2 separate regions of the Homo sapiens genome follow, and region 1 is linked to region 2. Evidence: fine-mapped QTL for protein levels in blood plasma. Region 2 holds a variant in brackets. A gene starts in the other region. All regions are shown on their forward strands.

Region 1 (5,366 bases), not on the chromosome of region 2:
TGGATCACCTGAGGTCGGGAGCTCAGGACCAGCCGGATCAACATGGCGAGACTCCGTCACTACTAAAAATACAAAAATTAGCTGGGCATGGTGGCACACACCTGTAACCCCAGCTACTCAGGAGGCTGAGGCAGGAGAACTGCTTGAACCCAGGAGGTGGAGGTTGCAGTGAGCCAAGAACCCCCCACTGCATTCCAGCCTGGGTGACAGAGTGAGACTCCATCATAAAATAAAATAAATAAAATAAAATTAAATTAAAATAAAATAAAATAAAATAAAATAGCCTGGGAGGCAGGGGGAAGAGCAGGATGGGCTTGTGCCATGTTGGGGAAATGTCAGTGGCTGAACTGCAAACCTAGAAATGCTAAGTTAGGCTCAGAGCTGGTTCAGAGATGGGTTATCAAATAATAGCTAACTTTCAGTAAACATTTACTATGTGCTAGCTACTAGTCTAGGTGACTTATATATTAATAATTTAACGCAGTTAGTCTTCACAACTCTTGTGAGGTAGGTCCTTTTAGCCCCTGTCTTAGTACATTGGTGCTGCTATAACAGATCTCTGAGGTTGGGTAATTTATGAAAAACAGAAATTTGGCCAGGTGTGCTGGCACATGCCTGTAATCCCAGCACTTTGGGAGGCCGAGGCAGGCGGATCACTTGAGGTCAGGAGTTTGAGACCAGCCTGGCCAACATGGTGAAACCCCGTTTCTACTAAAAATACAAAAGTTAGCCGGGTGCGGTGGCGGGCACCTGTAATCCCAGCTACTTGGGGGGCTGAGGCAGGAGGATCTGTTGAACCCGGGAGGTGGAGGTTGCAGTGAGCTGAGATCATGCTGCTGCACTCCAGCCTGGGCGACAGAGTCAGACTCTGTCTAAAAAACAAAAAAAAAGAACAGACATTTATTTCTCATAGTTCTAGAGGCTGGGAAGTCCAAGATCAAAGCACTGGCATTTGGGACTTCCTAGCCTGCAGAACTGCAAGAAAGTAAATTTCTCTTCTTTACAAATTTACTCAGTTTCAGGTACCCTGGCCTATATAGAAGCACAAAGGGACTAAGATGGTGTCCCTTTACAGATGAGGCATCTGAAGCACAGAGAGGTTAAGTTACCTGCCTAAGGTCACACAGGAAGGAAGTGGCAGAGGCAGGATTTGCCTTTGTTTTTTTTTTTTTTTTTTGAGACGGAGTCTTGCTCTATCATCCAGGCTGGAGTGCAGTAGTGCTCAGCTCACTGCAACCTCCTGAGTTCAAGCAATTTTCTGGCCTCAGCCTCCTGGGTAGCTGGGATTACAGGTGCCTGCCACCACGCCTGGCTAATTTTTGGTATTTTTAGTAGAGATGGGGTTTCACCATGTTGGCCAGGCTGGTCTCGATCTCCTGATCTCAAGTGATCTGCCCGCCTTGATCTCCCAAAGTGCTGGGATTACAGGCCTGGCCAGTAGTAGAATTTGAATCCAGGAAGTCTTACTCGACACACTCTCCTGGTCTAGAATCTAGGTTCTTCTCCAGTCCACCACCTAACCTGTGTAGCTTTGCTCTTCTCTGCAAAAAATGCCCTTTCTGGCTTCTCCCCCAAATCATTTCTCTTTCTTCCTAGCCTAGCTCTTATGTCTCCTCCTCCAAGAAGCCTTCCCTACTTTTGCTCTCCAGGCCCCAGATTCCTTCCCTTATCCTTGCCTTGACTCTGTGGAGCTGGGAATATCTATGTCCCCATGCTGGAGCTTCTTTGAGAGCTTGAGTCTCCAGCCTCACTCCATGCAGGGCAAGACATAGATGGGACAGCAGTACGCCTTCTGCAGAGCCAAGAGGTTTGGTCCCAGGACTCTGCCCCCTGACTCACCTGTCCCTGGGTCTGACCACAGTAGCAATCCGAGTAGGATCCAGAGGACACCCTGGGCCATTGTTGCAGGATTCCAGCTTCCAAGGGGTATTTCTGGTTGGCCTCGGCAGAGAACCTCGGCAGTGCTGGAGGGAGACAGGCACAGAGAACTGAGCAGAGCCTTTGACCACTGTCAAAGTCCAGCGGCGAATGACAGACCTGCCTCTCGTAGAGCTGTGGGCGGGAGGCAGCAGGGACATGGGGCAGCGTACCCTGGGTCAAGGTCATCTGGGCATCCTGGTCTCCCCCAGTCTCTTCTGTCCCTCCTAGGCTGAGGTCAGTGGTCAGTAAGCCAGGCCCATCCCCAGAGGGGCCTGGAGACCAGGTGGTTCAGACTCCATAAACTCTGCCCATTCTCCAGTGAGGTGGACCGAGGCAACCCCTCAAGTCCTGTCCCTCCCCATAGTGACGGCTCTGTAGCCGCTGCTGGCCACCAGAGGGGACTCTCAGCTGCCGCCTGCTGTACTGGTAAGACCGGCTGTGTTGAGGGAGAGGAGAGAAGCAGAGGCCTGAAGTTGGCACTGCCTTCTGCTTTTTTTTGCAACCAACACTTCAGGCTCAGGCACAGCATCGGTGCGGGGGCTGAGGACAGTGTTTGCTGAGGCCTGAAGTTGGCACTGCCTCCTGCTTTTTTTTGCAACCAACACTTCAGGCTCAGGCAGAGCATGGGTGCAGGGGCCGAGGACAGTGTTTGCTGAGGCCTGCTCTGAGCCCATGGGGACCAGGGGCTGTCACCTCTCATCCAGTTCCAGCCCTTGATTTCAAGCCACCAGCAGTAGCTGAGAGCAGGGGTTGAGCTTGAGTGTTCAGGACCCTGGCATTGTTCCAGGAGCTGGCTTCTGGACTCACCTGGGCTGACAGTGAAATGTCCTTCCTCTTCTCCGGGTGCCCATGACTGAGACCTGCAGAATGGACCCATCTCCCCTTTATTCTGGCATCAGATGGGGCAGGTTGACATGACTGGGCTGTTGTGTATGTAAATTGCTTCCCTGTGGGGCTCCCACCTCAAAACCAGCCCGGGGAGTTTCCAGGAGACCCACCAGCTGGAGACTCAGCCAGGGCAGGCCTGGGAATGTCCAGCCTGAGCCAGGCCTGGGATTCCCCTGGGGGCCACCCCTGGGGCCTCCTCAGGTGTCCTCTTTCTGGGGACCTCCCAGAAAAAAGCTGGGCACATAGTGGAAGCTCAGGATGTAGGGTGCTAAGTGATAGAGTGAATGGGGGACACTTCCCATGGGAGTAAGAGACAATGTCCTCCTCCAAGCTCGTTTCCCAGGATTTGGGGATAGGAGCTTTGCCTGGTAGAACCATATGAAGGTTGTGGGCTGAGGCAGGGACTAGGTTGAGGCATCCTCTTTGCCGCAAAATTTAAGGCAGTGTTGAAAATCTAAGTCATCAATAACTTTTTTTTTTTTTGAGACGGAGTCTCGCTCTGTCACCCAGGCTGGAGTGCAATGGCACGATCTCAGCTCACTACAACCTCCACCTCCCAGATTCAAGCAATTCTCCTGCCTCCCTGCCTCAGCCTACCAAGTAGCTCAGGTTACAGGCATGCGCCACCATGCCTGGCTAATTTTTGTATTTTTAGTAGAGACGGGGTTTTGCCACGTAGGCCAGGCTGGTCTTGAACCCCTGACTCAGGTGATCCACCCAACTTGGCCTACCAAATTGCTGGGATTACAAGCGTGAGCCACCATGCCCGGCCGATAAATAATTTTAAGACTTTTTTAGAACAGTTTTATTATTATTATTATTTTTAAAGATGGAGTCTTGATATGCTGGCCAGGTTGGTCTTAAACTCTTGGCCTCAAGCAATCCTCCTGCCTCGGCCTCCCGAAATGCTAGGATTACAGGCGTGAGCCACTGCACCCAGCTTTATTTTTTATTTTATTATTATTATTTTTTGAGGCAGGGTCTCCCTCTGTCACCCAGGCTGGAGTGTAGTGGTGCAATCTTGGCTTACTGCAGCCCTGCTTCCCAGGTTCAAGTGATTCTCCTGCCTCAGCCTCCCAAGGAGCTGAGATTACAGGTGCCCGTCCACCACTTCCAGTTAATTTTTGTATTTTTAGTAGAGACGGGATTTCAGCATGTTGGCCAGGCTGGTCTCAAACTCCCAACCTCGGGTGATCCACCTGTCTTGGCCTCTCAAAGTGCTGGGATTACAGGCTTTTTTTTTTTTTTTTTTTTTTTTTGAGACAGAGTCTCGCTCTGTTGCCTAGGCTGCAGTGTAGTGGCACAATCTTGGCTCACTGCAGCCTCTGCCTCCCAGGTTCAAGCTATTCTCCTGCCTCAGCCTCCCGAGTAGCTGGGATTACAGGTCCCCGTCACCACTCCCGGCTGATTTTTGTACTTTTAGTACAGATGTAGTTTCACCATGTTGGCCAGGCTGGTCTTGAACTCCTGACCTCAGGTGATCCACCCGCATCGGCCTCTATTTTTAATTTTTTATAGAGATGAGGGTCTCGCTATGTTGGCCAGGCTGGTCTCATCTCCTGGACTCAAGGGATCCTCCTGCCTTAGCTTCCCAAAGTGCTGGGATTACAGGCGTGAGCCACCATGCCTGGCCTAGAGCAGTTTTAGGTTCGTGACAAAATTGAGCAGAAGTTACAGAGAGTTCTACTCCCTGCCTTGACACATGCACAGACTCTCGTATTATCACTATCCAGCACCAGAATGGTATATCTGTTACAATCGATGAACCTTCACTGACACATCATTATCACCCAAAGTTCATCATTTCCATTAGGGTTTGCTCTTGGTGGTGTACATTCTATGGGTTTGGACAAATGTATAATGACATATGTCCACCACTAGAGTGTCATACGGAGTACAGTTGACCCTTGAACAACATGGGTTTGACCTGTGAGGGTCAACTTATATCTGGATTTGTTTCAATAAAAATTACATGGACTGTGCCTGCCTCTCCTCTCCCCTTCCTCCTCTTCCACCTCTGCCACCCCTGAGACAGCAAGACCCCTCCTCTTCCTCCTCCTCAGCCTACTCAACATGAAGACGGTGAGGATGAAGACCTTTATGATGATTCTCTACTTAATGAATAGTAAATATACTTCCTCTTCCATATTTTCTTCCTTCTCTTCCTTCTCCTTTCTTCCCTTCTCCTTCCTTCCTTCCTTCCCTCCCTCCCCCCTTCCTCCCTCCCTCCTTTCTTTCTTTTTTCTTTCTTTCTTTCTTCCTTTCTTTCTTTCTTTCTTTCTTTCTTCCTTCCTTCCTTCCTTCCTTCCTTCCTTCCTTCCTTCCTTCCTTCCTTCTTTCTTTCTTTCTTTCTTTCTTTCTTTCTTTCTTTCTTTCTTTCTTTCTTTCTTTCTCTTTCTTCTCTTTCTTTCTCTTTTTCTCTTTCTTTCTGGCAGAGTCTCATTCTGTCCCCCAGGCTGGAGTACAGTGGCGTAATCTCAGCTCACTGCAGCTTCCATCTCCTGGGTTCAAGCGATTCTCCTGCCTCAGCCTCCTGAGTAGCTGGGATTACAGGTACC
Region 2 (5,366 bases):
TCTGGATCTCCCAGGCTGCCCTGTGGACCCCACTGGCTACCCTCCCTCCACCACGGGCCCCGACAGCCTCCCGTTCAGCCCGCACACCACAGGCTGACCCTGGCCACTCTTCTGATCAGTCCTGATCCGGCTGAAGAAGAAAGGGGACCGCTGTGCCACACGCTCGCAGTTCGTGCAGCCCATCTGCCTGCCCGAGCCCGGCAGCACCTTCCCCGCAGGACACAAGTGCCAGATTGCGGGCTGGGGCCACTTGGATGAGAGTGAGTTGGGAGGGGGGCGCCCAGCGCCCCGCCAGGGTGGACAGTGGCCAGCCACAGTGTGGGTGTCACGCTGAGGGCATTGTGTCCCACAGACGTGAGCGGCTACTCCAGCTCCCTGCGGGAGGCCCTGGTCCCCCTGGTCGCCGACCACAAGTGCAGCAGCCCTGAGGTCTACGGCGCCGACATCAGCCCCAACATGCTCTGTGCCGGCTACTTCGACTGCAAGTCCGACGCCTGCCAGGTGAGCTGGTGCCCGCCCCACCAGGACCCGACTGGTGGGGGCTCAGCTGGTCCTGAGTCTCCGAGATGCTTGCCCCTGGGGAGCCCAGAGCCTGGCGGCACCCCAACCTGGCAGGGCCAGCCAGGGACCCCTGGGCAGGGAGCACACTTACTGTCGGTGGCCAGCACCCCAGGGCCACCCAGAGCCCTGCCGGAAGGGCATCCTCCTCACACAGAAGGGGAGACCCAGGCTCTGAGAGGGGCCTGGGGTCCCACAGAGCCCGGACAGTTCCTGGCTGTCCAGCCCAAGGCAGTGCTTTCCGTGTGACACTAGGCACCAAAGGCCCCTTTGCCCCGAGTTCTCTCAAGCCAGCTCTTCAACCTTCAATAAGTTCTTCAACCTTCAATAAGCCCAACAGCCCAACCACGTCCTGGGCTCTGCAGGCCTGTGTGCTCAGGCGGCACGGCAACCCTGGCATGCGACGGCTCTCTTATGCCCCATTTTATAGCTGGGGAGACTGAGCCCCAGGCAGTCAATTCACTCTTCCAAGGCCACAAAGCCCAGGAGTGGTAGAGTGGGTAGGGCTTGTCACTGGACCTCGATAAGGGAAGTCAGGATGGTTTCCTGGAGGAGGGAGTGTTTGCACTGGTCCTGAGTGATGCGTAGGAGTTTTCCAGGGAGTGAAGAAGTCATTTCAGGAGGTGCTGGGACACAGGGTGGCTGTGTGGTCCACACAGGGTTCATGCTGGTGGGGAGAGGGGGACCGTGGCTTCAGGAAGGGGAATAACGTGGTTGGATGCCCTGGCCCAGCCAGTGCTGCCCCCAGGGAATGAGACACCTTTTCATGAGGTTCAGGAGAGTGGATCAGCTCCCTTGCTCAGAAATGCCTTTGTCCTCTGTCCCCAAGCTGCCACTTGGGGGAGAGGGGGGTCCCTGAACCAGGCCCCTGGGAGGGTGGCTCTGACCAACGTCTCTGCCCAGGGGGACTCAGGGGGGCCCCTGGCCTGCGAGAAGAACGGCGTGGCTTACCTCTACGGCATCATCAGCTGGGGTGACGGCTGCGGGCGGCTCCACAAGCCGGGGGTCTACACCCGCGTGGCCAACTATGTGGACTGGATCAACGACCGGATACGGCCTCCCAGGCGGCTTGTGGCTCCCTCCTGACCCTCCAGCGGGACACCCTGGTTCCCACCATTCCCTGCCTTGCTGACAATAAAGATATTTCCAAGAACCCGGCCCACGCTGCCTGGCCCCTGCCTGCGGCCCCGCCTTCCCCTCCAGGCCATGACTGGGGCCCAGGTCTATGCGCAGCAGGCCTCAGGCTGCCGTTCTGGAGCGCACACAGTCCTCAGTGGAGACGGAGCCTGTGGCCCCACAGCGGGGTCTGGCCCCACGGCCCAGAGAGTTGTCAGGGGATGAGGTCTGGGCCTCTCCAGGCCCCAGCAGAGTCCAGCCCCCTCCCAGGCCAGCCCCAGGCCGGGGCTCAGCACCTGGGTTGTCCCAGGGCAGGAAGTGGAAACCAAGTCCAGGCCCCCAGGCGTGGAGGGGTCCGATCCGCGTGGTGCACGGAGTATTGAACCTGAAGAAGAAAGAGCGGCCCCACGGGAACACCCGCAGGCCGTCGTTGGTCTTCCAGATGGCAGCCCGCCTGCCTGAGCCTGGGCTGCACTTCCCGGGAGGGAGGAGGCCACAGGCTGCCTCTGTGGGGGCTGAGGGAGGGAGGGGCCCATGTGCTAGATGGGGCCCAGTTAGAGGGTCACTGCTGGGCAGGCAGAGGCCGTACCCTCCCTCCAGCCAGGGAGGACAGGAGACAGGGGGAGGTGGGGCCAGAGGGCAGAGAGGGCGGGAGTGTGGCTGGTGGGGGTCAGGCCTCCTCCCTGCTTCGAGGCACCCAGGACCTTCTCTCCTGCGCCCCACCTCCTTCCTGGCGTCCTGGTCTCGGGGAGGCAGTGGTTTGCAGTTACAGCTGTTCCCTTTCGTCGGGAGCCCCTTCCCCAGCAGATTGGCGCCGCCCCAGGCTGTACGGAGGCTGGGAGGGCAGGAAATGGGGCATTGGGGCCACACAGTTACCGCCCCAAGCAAAGCCGGGTTCTGAGCAAAGAGGGAAGAGAGACATGGCCAGGCCCTTCTCCCCACGGCCCCTGCTGCTGTGCATGGGCCTCAGAGCCTTCGAGCTCACGGAACGAACTTGCCACTGAAGACCCCTGCCCCTGCCACAGTGTTGGTGCAGCCTGGGCAGTGGCTGGGGGACTGAGTCTGGCACCTGTGCCCCAGGATCCTGAGAGTGGAGCCGCTCTTCCTCCTGAGTGTGGGGGCCTCCAGCAGCTGGTTCTGGGGCTCTGAACCTCATGGCTTCAGCCCC[G/A]CTTCACCCACATCCGATGTGAGCCGTCCCTGACCCTTCCGCCATGAGCGGTGAGCATTTTCACATGCTTCCTCAGCCTCTGTTGAGATAAATGTACACATTTTCCCTTTGGCTTCACTAACATGATGACTTCCATGATAGGTTTCCTTCCTCCCTCCCTCCCTCCCTCCCTTCTTCCTTCCTTCCTCCCTCCCTTCTTCCTTCTTTCCTTCCTTTTCTTCCTTCCTTTCTTCTTCTTTCTCTCTCTCTTTTTCTCTCTTTTTTCTTTTTTCTTCTTCTTTCTTTCTTCTTTCTCTCTCTCTCTCTCTTTCTTTCTTTTCTTCATTTTTTTTCTTTCTTTCTGAGACAGGGTCTCACTCTGCCACCCAGCCTGGAGTGCAGTGGCGCGATCTTGGCTTACCACAACCTCTGCCTCCCAGGCTCAAGTGATTCTTCTGCCTCATCCTCCCGAGTAGCTGGGATTACAGGTGCCTGCCACCACGCCCGGCTAATTTTTGTATTTTTAGTAGAGATGGGGTTTCACCACGTTGCCCAGGCTGGTCTTGAACTCCTGACTTCAAATGATCCGCCCAACTCGGCCACCCAAAGTGCTGGGATTACAGGCGTGAGTCACTGCGCCCGGCACATGATAGGTTTTCTAACTCAGGTTGGCCTTGTATTCCTCGAGTGGACGGTATTGAGCTGAAGTGTGAGCTGGGGTCTTCCCTTTGCCCCTCCCACTTGTGCCCTGCTTGTTCCCGTCGTGCTCTGCCGCGGGAGGCTGGCCTCTCTGGTCTGCAATGGGCTGTGCACTCTCTTGTTTCTTGTTGGGCTATTGGGAGATCAGAGGCAGGGGAGAGAGACTGGGCATGTATTTTCCTGGCTCCCTTTCTTTGGGGTCAGTCACCTCAGTGTTTCAGGTGGAATTATGTCCTTCTAGAATTCATATGATGACTGGGCGCAGTGGCTCACACCTGTCATCCCAGCACTTTGGGAGGCCCAGGTGGGAATTCAAGACCAGCCTGGGCAACAGGATGAAACCCAGTCTCTACAAAAAAATTAGCCGGGCATGGTGGCATGCACCTGTAGTCTCAGCTACTCAGGAGGCTGAAGGGGAAGGATCACCTCCACCAGGAGGTGGAGGTTGCAGTGAGCCATGATCACGCCACTGCACTCCAGCCTGGGTACAGAGCAGGATCCTGTTTTAATAAATTAATTAATTCATATGTTGAAGTCCTAACCCCTAATAGCCCAGCATGTGACTGTATTTGGAGATAGAATGTTTAAAAAGGCAATCAAGTTCAAATTAGGTTATTAGGATGGGCACTAACTCAATATGACTGGTGTCCTAATGAGAAGAGAAAATTTGGACTATCCACCTGAAATAATCAAAAGGATCAGAATCCAGTTTAAAAGAGCATATGCAGGCACGAAGCTGAAAATAGCCACTCAGGACACACAGACTCCAGAGGATTAGAGCCAGTACCCCAAAGCCAAAAAGTGAAGGTCTTGCTTATACAGGCAGAAAATAAACAAATTGAACAGGGTTACAGTGCTTCCCATGCAAGGCTGGTTTATGAGTCACAGCAATTTGATTAATCACAGCTTGTTTTCTTTTCCTTTTCCAATTTGAAAGAGCCTATTGAACGTTCTGTCTTAGACAACGTGGTGGCCAGTGAGGTCTCTGTGTAAGAGAAGTCAGAGGGGAGCAAATCTACAGTGAAGATCAACATGAAGAGGGAAGGGGTCTTCCCTGGTGTCCTGTAGTCTTTTATAACATTTTACAGAACAATGTAGGTAAAGAAAAAGCTAATCTATAATCAGAGGAACAAAGGTTACAGCTGCCTAAGCTACAGCTGACCGTCATACGCAACTCAGGTCCTATAATCATGTTCCTTGAAGATGCAAAATAATTTAAAGTTCCAACAACTTTGGTTTTGAATGGCTTCTTTTTACAGGACGCAGACATGTACAGTAGGAGGGCGATGGGAGACACCTGGAGAGAAGATGGCCGTCCACAAACCAGGGCCAGAGGCCTAGAGCAGGTGCCCCCTGCTGGACTCCAAGGGAGCCAAGCCTGCTGCCCCCTGGGTTTTGGACTTCTGGCTTCCAGAACTGCAAGGTGATAAGCTTCTCTTGTCGAAGGCACCCAATCTGTGGCAGTTTATTATGGTCCCCGTAGCAAACAAATACCCTCAGGTTGGCTGCATCCTGGGACTGAAGGTCAGCGCTGCTCTCAAGATGTAAAAGACTTTCTCCTTCTGAGGCTCCGGGGTCCACTCCTGCCATTGCCAGCATTCTAGAACTGGTGTGGCCCCTCCACCTTAACCAGCCCTGGGCTCTGGAGTTTCTGACTGTGATTGTCCACATTTTGACCACAACTTTGTATATAAAAACCCTCCTTGAACTGTTCCACTGTGTGTGCCCGCCTATTGGGACCCTGACTGATACATGCTGTATTGGTTTTTAAAAACTTTTTAAAATTTATATTTTATTTAGGATTTTGCATGTATGTTTATGAGATTGGCCTATAATTTTCCTTTCC

Alleles and levels. Positions count from the first base shown, and alleles are read on the strand shown. Strength reflects both the effect of a copy and how common the allele is.
For the plasma level of the protein whose gene starts at base 2,030 in region 1, G is the low allele of the variant in region 2 and A is the other (weak association).

The links. PIP is the posterior inclusion probability: the model's chance that the variant is causal. Protein levels are from antibody-based Olink assays in UK Biobank. Linkage for the fine-mapping came from a reference panel and not from the study's own genotypes, which makes the PIPs less certain.
Region 1: it holds the start of PGLYRP2, and the variant in region 2 is fine-mapped to the plasma level of the PGLYRP2 protein (UK Biobank, PIP above 0.99).

What each region holds. Positions count from the first base shown.
Region 1 is chr19:15,477,472-15,482,837 of GRCh38, forward strand. It overlaps PGLYRP2 (peptidoglycan recognition protein 2), which reads right to left and starts at 2,030. Exons shown (of 5, transcript NM_052890.4): 1 at 1,840-2,030. The coding sequence starts at 1,900.
Region 2 is chr4:3,447,776-3,453,141 of GRCh38, forward strand. It overlaps HGFAC (HGF activator), which reads left to right. Exons shown (of 14, transcript NM_001528.4): 12 at 120-260; 13 at 353-501; 14 at 1,462-1,711. The coding sequence ends at 1,644. Among named protein-coding and RNA genes, the nearest start is that of HGFAC, 8.5 kb to the left of the region's middle. RefSeq lists an enhancer at 1,280-2,083. The variant G/A (reference allele first, on the strand shown) is at 2,843.